Regions from separate parts of the Homo sapiens genome. Here region 2 is reported to be linked to region 1. The links are microRNA targets in miRTarBase. Many come from high-throughput screens and were not tested one by one. Region 1 holds a microRNA gene; the other region holds the end of a gene's coding sequence.

Region 1 (4,375 bases):
CCTGGTTGCAGGTGGAGGGCCTCGCGCCTGTCCTCCCACCCACCCGGGTCCTGCTTGCCCCAGCTCTGTCCTCGCAGCCCGCACAGCTCTGCCAGCAGGAACTGGGCAACTGCAGCAAGAAGCTTGGGCTGGGCCGGGGCCGCATCCCACTGTCCCTCCCCAAGGGCAGGCATGCAGGGGGGTCAGCCACAAGGGACCTGCCCTTCTCCCTGCCTTCTGTGGGTTGGGAGGCTCCTGACTGAGCCACCTGGAGGGAGAGCCCTCACATTCAGAGCCCTCCAAAGAGTTTGCCAAATGTTGGAAATGCCTCCAGGGCCCGTCCACCAGCCGTCCAGCTTCCGGTGCCTGCATGAGTCTCCGCTTGGCCCTCTCCTCGGCCTAGGAACCCGCAGGTCTTGTCCCGTCAGGTTCCTCCTGAAGCTTTTGTTCTGAGAGGAAAAACTTTCCAGGGTTTCAAACTTGGAAAAACACCTGAACGCAGCCAGACACATTTTCCGTCGTCTGGTCAGCCAAGGAAGTGTTGGCCTGTGGCTGCACTCACTTCCTTCAGCCCCAGGAAGCCTTGGTCGGGGGCAGGAGGGAGGGTCAGGCAGGGCTGGGGGCCTGACCGCCCACACTCCTCCTCAGGCCTGCGGGGAACGCCCTGCTCCCCAACTAAGCAGCCTTCTCTTTGTTCTCTTCCTTCTCTCTGTAAACCCCCGTTTCCTGCCTTGTTCCCTCCCTGAACATGCTCTTCACCTGGCAAGCAGAGGAAGCTACGTTGGGATATGTGAGCAGTGTGCTCCGTGGTGCTGCTGTGTGACCCGCCTTCCCGTAGCCCCTTGCCCCGCTGCTCCCGCTAGGCCCTCTTTCCTGCTCCTGCCCCGCCCCTTTCCCTGCCGCTGTCACGCCTCTTTTCTGCCCTGCCACACCCCATTTCCGGCCCCGCCCCTTTCCCTGCCGCTGTCACGCCTCTTTTCTGCCCTGCCACACCCCATTCCCGGCCCCGCCCCTTTCCCTGCCGCTGTCACGCCTCTTTTCTGCCCTGCCACACCCCATTCCCGGCCCCGCCCCTTTCCCTGCCGCTGTCACGCCTCTTTTCTGCCCTGCCACACCCCATTCCCGGCCCCGCCCCTTTCCCTGCCGCTGTCACGCCTCTTTTCTGCCCTGCCACACCCCATTCCCGGCCCCGCCCCTTTCCCTGCCGCTGTCACGCCTCTTTTCTGCCCTGCCACACCCCATTCCCGGCCCCGCCCCTTTCCCTGCCGCTGTCACGCCTCTTTTCTGCCCTGCCACACCCAATTCCGTGCCCTGCCTCTTTCCTTCCCCTGCCACACCCAATTCTGTGGCCTGTCGCTTTCCTCTTCCTGCCCCTGCATCACCCCCTTTCCTGCCCCGCCCCATTCCCTGCCCCTGTCATGCCCCTTTCCGGCTTTGCCTCCTCCCTGTCCCACCTCTTTCTTGCCTCCACCCCGCCCTTTTCCTGCCCGCTCCTAGACCTGCTGCTGCCCCGGCCATCCCCAGGCTTGGGCAGCGGGGCGGGACGGGACAGCCAAGAGACACTGAGCCAGCTTTGCCCCCCACCCCCCTCTCTTGAGGGGCCGCGCACCACCTCGGGGAGGAGCCAGGGCGGGGCCTGACCCCACAAAGCTTTAGTTCCCCCGGGGAGAGGCTGGGGACAAGCTACCCATTCTGGGGTATGACACCTATCAGCACGTGTGAGCCCGCCCTGTGCCCGGCCCACTTCTGCTTCCTCTTAGCGCAGGAGGGGTCCCGCACTGGGAGGGGCCCTCACAGCCTACCCCGCTAGCTTTCTGCCTGATGGTGAGCTTGCCCCGTTGTTCGCCGCCATCTTTCGCCTTTGCCTGACAGCTCAGGTAGGGCGACGTCTCCCCCCAGCTCAGCCCCAGGCAGAAGTCAGGCCCGCTCTGCACCTCGTGCTGTGCCTGGCCCGTGTGTTCCCCTCACAGTGACGCACAGCCGTCCTGTGGGGAGGGAGGGCTCTGGGAAAAGACCCCCTTCTTGAGTGTTCCCCATCGGTTTGTCCCCAGGGCTGCGCTGGCCTCGGCACACCAGTGCCACCCGCTGCCCCGGACGCTGAGCGTCCTGAAGAGCACGCCGCAGGTACGGGGCATGCACACCATCATCAGGTGAGGGCCCACCTGGGGACGGGGCGGCCCCGGGCGCGTGCTCCCGCTCAACTGTTGGCCCCACAGGGACAAGGAGACCAGTCGCGACGAGTTCATCTTCTACTCCAAGAGACTGATGCGGCTGCTCATCGAGCACGCGCTCTCCTTCCTGCCCTTTCAGGTTCGTAGCCCGTAGCCCGCGAGGTGGAGGGTGGGTCTTGGAGCCGGTGCGAGCTCCCTGCGCTCACCGGAGTCCTCACCCTGCACCCCACAGGACTGCGTCGTACAGACCCCGCAGGGGCAGGACTATGCGGGCAAGTGCTATGCGGGGAAGCAGGTACCTGCCTGGGCACACCTGGGCGCGGGACAGGCTGCTGGGGCGGGATGTGGGCGCTTAGCCTCCCCTCCCCGCAGATCACCGGTGTGTCCATTCTGCGCGCCGGTGAAACCATGGAGCCCGCGCTGCGCGCTGTGTGCAAAGACGTGCGCATCGGCACCATCCTCATCCAGACCAACCAGCTTACCGGGGAGCCCGAGGTGCCTGGGGGCAGCCGGGGTGATGAGCCCGGGGGTAGGGGGCAGAGGGAGCTCACAGCAAGGGGACGCAGGGAGCCCCACCTGCAGCCTGACCCCTGCTGCCCGCAGCTCCACTACCTGAGGCTGCCCAAGGACATCAGCGATGACCACGTGATCCTCATGGACTGCACCGTGTCCACGGGCGCGGCGGCCATGATGGCAGTGCGCGTGCTCCTGGTGAGTGAGCCCTGGGTAGGCGGGGCAGGTTCAGGCAGAGGTGGGATTTACCTGCCCAATACACTCGGTAGGACCACGACGTGCCTGAGGACAAGATCTTTTTGCTGTCGCTGCTCATGGCAGAGATGGGCGTGCACTCAGTGGCCTATGCATTTCCGCGAGTGAGAATCATCACCACGGCGGTGGACAAGCGGGTCAATGACCTTTTCCGCATCATCCCAGGCATTGGTGAGGCTGCCCGGGCCCTTCAGCCGCACATGAGGGCAGGGTGGGTGGCCCTGGGAGGCCCCACCACACTGGACCCCCCCCCCCCTTTTTCCAGGGAACTTTGGCGACCGCTACTTTGGGACAGACGCGGTCCCCGATGGCAGTGACGAGGAGGAAGTGGCCTACACGGGTTAGCTGCCCAGTGAGCCATCCCGTCCCCACCACCCTCCTCCTGCCTCCTGACCCAGGACTGCTGAATACAAAGATGTTAATTTTTAAAATGTTACTAGTATAATTTATTCTATGCATTTTATAAAATAAATAAAGCTTTAGAAAAATGAAGGTGTGATTGGTTACAGCACAGGAGAGGTGTCCTGGCTGAGGCATGCATTTGTGGAGACTCCCATGGGGAGGGAGGGAGGGAGCTGAGGGCCCTGCCTTCTCCCCTGCAGGACCAAGCATTCCCAGTCTTGCACTTGTGCCAGATGAAGGAAGGGGTAGAACTGGGCCCTGCAGCTCCTAGCTCTGCTAGATGGGGCCCCTAGAACCCATAGCTTGGTGGCCACCTGGCCTGGACCTAGGGAGGGGACAGGGCCCCCTGGTGCTCTGGGTCTCACAAGAGGCAGGCTGTTTTGCCCCCACCCACAAATTTGTACCATCAGGGTCCTCCCCACAGTTGGGGGGGGGGAGGGTCCTTCCCGTCAGGACAAGTCGCTGGAGGCAGCAAAGCCAGGAGGCAGACCAGGGCGGAAGTGGGGGCCTGCGCTTGGAGGCGGGGCCACCCGGGGCCCACGAGCCCGGAGCCACTGCTGCTCAGGGCCCGCCTCGCTCACCCCTCCAGACCTGGAGGCCCACCCGCATCCCGTGCTCTCTGCCGTGCCCACGCCCGCAAGCGTGGGTTCCCTTAGGTCCTGCCCACCCTGCTTTCCGAGCAGGCCCCCCCCGGGCTCCCCGAGAGGAGTCGCCGCCGTGGTTTACTGAGGAAGAGGAGGTGCACGCGCGGCGCCCACACGTCGGGCCCCGGAGAGGCCCAGATAACTGAATCAGCCTCCCGGGGCTCAGCCGTGGAGCTGAGGGCTGATGCTGGGGACTCAGCCGTGGGCCAGGCGCATCTGACACGGGACACGGTCGTCCCCGTCCTCTCAGGCGCCAGTGTCTTTCTGCGTGGAAGTCCACGGCCAAAAGCGTGGCGTCCTCGGAGCCTGGCACCTCGATTATGCCGGATCCCGGATCCTGGACAGGGGTCTGCTGACGAAGGGAGGGACGGCGTAAGGCCGGTCTTCCCAGATGCCGCGAGACCTTGCGCT
Region 2 (4,375 bases), not on the chromosome of region 1:
AAAAGGGCGGCGACATGGGGCAGGATAGCGAGGGTTATTTAACCGCCAGAACCCGTGGGGCATGCGCCGCTGCGTGTGGGCAACCGCCACGAGGGGATTGGGGTCCGTGGGAGTTTGAAGGTGACGGTCTGCAATCTATCAGGATGTTTGTAGAGGATGAGAATGTTCATAGAGGGATGCTAGGAAGGGTTGTAAACGTCTGAGAGAGGCCTATGGGTGTCTAGAAGGGCTAAGAGGAGTCCGTGGAGTGGTGAAGGGGTCTTTGATGAGCTTAGTTGACAGGATAATTACTGGGGACCAGTGGAGAAGCCTGAGGGGACTTAGGCTGTCTGCTAAAAGTTCTATGGGTGGGTGGACGCGATGGCTTACACTTGCAATCCCAGCACTTTGTGAGGTCAAGGCCGTGGATCACTTGAGGTCAGTCAGAAGTTCGAGACCCGCCTGGCCAACATGGAGGAAACCCCATCTCTACTAAAAACACACAAAAAAATTAGCCGGGCGTGGTGGCCCACGCCTGTAATCCCAGCTACTCGGGAAGCTGAGGCACAAGAATCTCTTGAACCTGGGAGGCTGAGGTTGCAGTGGGCTGAGATTGCACCACTGCACTCCACCCTGGGCAACAGAGTGAGACTCTGTTTTGAAAAAAAAGAAAAAAAAAAAAGGTCTATGGGAGACAGAAATTACTGGTGACCAAGGGGATCTCTGAGCGACCTGAAGGGGTGAGGGATGGTTGAGAAGCATTGGGAAGGGGCTTTGAGAGTCTGTGGAGGTACTGGGGCTACACGTACAAAGCAGGGAGGTCTCTGATGAGATTAATTAATATGTGAAGTGCCTTGAGAGCATCTGTAAAGGGCTTTCTACTTGGAAGCAAGGATCTCAGAGGATATGGATGGGACCAAGGGTGTCTTCTTGCAGGAACATTTCAAGCCAGCTAGCTAATAGATTTAGGTGGGCGATTAAAGGTTAGAGTAGCCGCTGGAGTTTTCAAGGCCAAATGCCACCTGTGACATCCTACACAGCCAGAATCTGGGGCAACTTGTCTGGTAGGGCTGTGGTCTGACCTGGACAGCAGTTAGGGAGCTGAGCTGAGCACTTATGATTCCATATTAGATGTGGTTAGAGGTGCTTTGAAGGCACTGGGTTCAGGGGCTGAGGCCAGTAGTTAGGGTCCTCTCCTCCCGAGTGACAACATCCCCTTCTCCATCACCCCACCACCACCACCAACTCAGCTGCAACTATGTTGCCAGGAGACATGTCTCATCCCAGCTTCCAGAAATAGCCCAGTGGCCCCCACCCCAGGGAATGACTTACATCACCCAGGAGAGGGAGCAGTTTCCCGCAGGCCGCCTCGGGAGCCTCGGTTTCCTGCCAGTATCCTAGCCCTGGATCCTCTCTTCCCTGCCAACCGACATCATCTGGGACCACCCACCCTGGCTGGCATGAAATGAGATGCGAGTGGGTAGCAGTTGCCAGTCAACGTTTCTTCCCCCTCAGGGTTGCACAGGGTGGAGTTTCATGGCGAAGCCAGTCCAACAAGCCCTCAATTGCCACTCCATCTCTTAGCAGCTGTGTGGCCTTGGGGAAACCCCTTCCCCTTTCTGGGCCTCAGGCACCTCACCTGCATGGTGGAGACAGAACTTGTCTCTAAGGGTACTTCCAGCCTGGATTATTCCTCCTAATTCTTTCATCCCTGATTCAAGCTCTCCAATCTCAGCTTCTAGCTCTATGAGCTCATCTCAAATCCTCTGATCCTGAAAGCCTGATCTGGATCCAACTATCTTGGTGTTAGGAAGGAAAAGTCAGGAGTTGTTGAAAGAACGTGGGCTTTGAAGTCCTGGCTCAGCCACAGGGCCCTGGGCAAGTCACTTAGCAGCACTGGTTGCCCCTACCTTACTGGATACTGAAGGAGCTACAACACTGCAGCTCTTAAGTATTGGACACACAGTAGGTCAACAGCATCGATGACTAGTGAGCCAGTCCCTTGGCTGTGTGCTGGCTGGGGGTGTTCCCATACCTGGACCTGAAGATCACCAAGTTACCTTGCAAGGTCTACATTTCAAGAGACACCACAGGCTGTTCTCCAAAGGACTCCCAGCTGAACTCAGAGCAACAAGAGAGGGGTGTGGGCAGGGTGCGAGGGGCAGTGCAAAAGGGAGCTCCTGGTCTTCACTGGGGACCTGGGGTGTGGGAAGAATTCCTAGCCACAAGTGGGAAGGCATCCAGGCAATCAGAAGAGCAAGGGCAGTGGGGTTGTGGTGAAAAACAGTGGGAAGAGCTTTCAAGGACAAGGTCCCCATGGAACAGAGGAGCAGTCTGATGAAGCCGGCGCATGCCTGAGACCACTATCATCAAGCTCTGGGGCTCATGTGCCTCTGAGGTCAGGAGACGGTTTCCCAGGCCTGGATTTGGCCCATTCTGATTAGGGTTAGGCCCTCTATACTGATCTGGCCACAGACCCACTAGCAGCCAGGGTGGGGCCCCTCCTTCAGAATCAAGCAAAAGCTGTGGCCCTCAGGGGGCTGCACCGAGCACCTAGGACATTGATCACTGCATCCAAAGGTCCAAAGTTTTATTGTTTTGAATACATTCTCCAGCGGCCCCTCTACTCCCCCCACCCTCAGTCCCCAATACAGAATAAGGCTTGACCACAGCCCCCCACCCCACCCCAGAGGCCCCAGCTGGGAGGCAGAGGGGGCTTCCAGTTTGGTTTCAGGGCACCCCCTTCCCATCCCCCCACCCGCCTGCCCATGGGCCAGTCCTAGGAGCAGCTGGGGATGAAGGGGTTGGACCGGTGCTGGGGTGGGGAGTGGGAGAGGGATAGCAGGCACTTGTAGAGATTTGTGGCCCATGGGCGGCACCCCTCACCCTCCTCCGCCCCCCACCCCCCAACACATGGAATTTTTGGTTCATTATAAAATTGTCCCTCCCTCCCCTGCTGTGACCTTGTGGGGTATGAGAAACCTAGGCACTCATGGCCCCCTGGAGGGGCAGGGCAGGCAGGGCTGGGGCTGAGGAGGGCTGGGAGTGGGGCAGAGCGGGTGGGTCAGAGGGGTACAAGAGGCAGAGAACAGGGAGGGAGACAAGGCTTTACTTCCTAAGCGATTGTAATAGAAAAGTTCCTGGGTGTTAAGGCCAAAGCCTCAATTCAAATATAAATTCCCCAGAATGGAGGTGACCCCCTTAACTTCCCCCTCCCTCCCCCTACCACCACTTTGCCCAGAGCTTAGAAACCCACAGAGACAGGGAATAGCCCCTAGCCCTGGGCACCCACCCACCCCCACCATTTTTAAAAAAAAGAAATTAAAGTTTTATACAAAATGTGGGGAGGGAAAAGGGAGGAGGCAGGGAAGAGACAAGAGAGCTGCCCTCACCTCCAGGGCATAGGGGGCTTAAGGCAGCAAAAGAAGCATGGGGGGTGCGGGGCACACAGGTCCCCTGCCCACAGCCCTCAGGAGTCTCGGTGCTCCAGGGAGAGCTGGGCCGTGGCATGCTGGAGGTCAGAGCTCACCCGCCTTGGGGTGAGGGGCCCCCCAGCCTCCCCAGGCCCCTCCCCACGCACCTTCTTGTCCTCACCCTCATCCTCAAAGCCCCCAGCGGGGCCCCCACCCCCTTCGAGGCGACAGTCTTCACTCCAGCGCCGCTTAAAGCGTAGCTTGAGGGGCATGCACTGGGATGCCCCGGGTGCCTCGCCGGGCTCAGGCTTAGGGGGTGCAGGTGGGGCACGGGGCGTCTTGAACACCTCCCCGTCTTCCTCATCCTCATCACTGATGTCAGTCACCTCTACCTCCTCCGACTCGCCTTCCGAGATGGGCTCCACCTTGATCTGTGGTGGCGGGGGCGGTGGGGCTAGCGCCCCTGCCCCCTCAGCCAGCCCGCCTGCACTGCCACCGCTCTTGTCAGCACCGGCTACGGCCTTCTCCCCAGCTGCCCGCTGCCGGCGTCCGAGTGGGGGCGGCTGGAGCTTAAACTTGAATGGGGAGGAAGAAGAAGAAGAGGATGACGAGGCCGAGGAGGGGACCGGTGGGGTCTCGGGTGCCATGGGCGGCAGCGGGCACTTGTCAGGGCGCTGGGGCTGGGGCACCACCAGCCCAGGGTAGTGCAGGAAGGCGCGGGGGCTGAGGTGGTAGTTGTAGACGCTTTGGGTGTGGGCCTGCAGGTACCGTTTCATGTCCTCAGGGCTGAAGGAGAAGTGGGAGCCTCCCCCTGAGCCGCTGGGCCCCCCGCCACCACTGGGGTACATCGGGCTCAGCGTGGGCGAGGGAGTGTAGGCCAGGTGGGTGGGCGTCATGGGCAGAGCCGGGGAGAGCTGAGGGGGCAGCAGGGATCCAGGACCGGCCAGAGGCGACACAGGGAAGGGGCTGAGGGGTTCAGGGCC

The links. Region 1 holds the annotated microRNA hsa-miR-1914-5p (CCCUGUGCCCGGCCCACUUCUG, at 1,707-1,728, shown strand). A microRNA usually pairs through its seed, bases 2 to 8, with sites in the 3' UTR of a target mRNA and lowers its output. Matches are read on the target gene's strand: a 7mer-m8 pairs with bases 2 to 8, a 7mer-A1 pairs with bases 2 to 7 and ends in A, and an 8mer does both.
Region 2: the mRNA of ERF is a reported target of hsa-miR-1914-5p. The part of its 3' UTR that is shown has no 7-base or 8-base seed match.

The regions. Positions count from the first base shown.
Region 1 is chr20:63,938,864-63,943,238 of GRCh38, reverse strand. MIR1914 (microRNA 1914) reads left to right here and starts at 1,695; the gene lies at 1,695-1,774. It overlaps UCKL1 (uridine-cytidine kinase 1 like 1), which reads left to right. Exons shown (of 15, transcript NM_017859.4): 9 at 2,031-2,129; 10 at 2,196-2,289; 11 at 2,383-2,445; 12 at 2,523-2,645; 13 at 2,754-2,861; 14 at 2,933-3,089; 15 at 3,184-3,410. The coding sequence ends at 3,263. MIR647 (microRNA 647) reads left to right here and starts at 513; the gene lies at 513-608. RefSeq lists enhancers at 1-207, 208-921.
Region 2 is chr19:42,245,017-42,249,391 of GRCh38, forward strand. ERF (ETS2 repressor factor) reads right to left here. Exons shown (of 4, transcript NM_006494.4): 4 at 2,553-4,375. The coding sequence ends at 3,449. Among named protein-coding and RNA genes, the nearest start is that of GSK3A, 4.6 kb to the left of the region's middle. RefSeq lists a silencer at 2,141-2,435.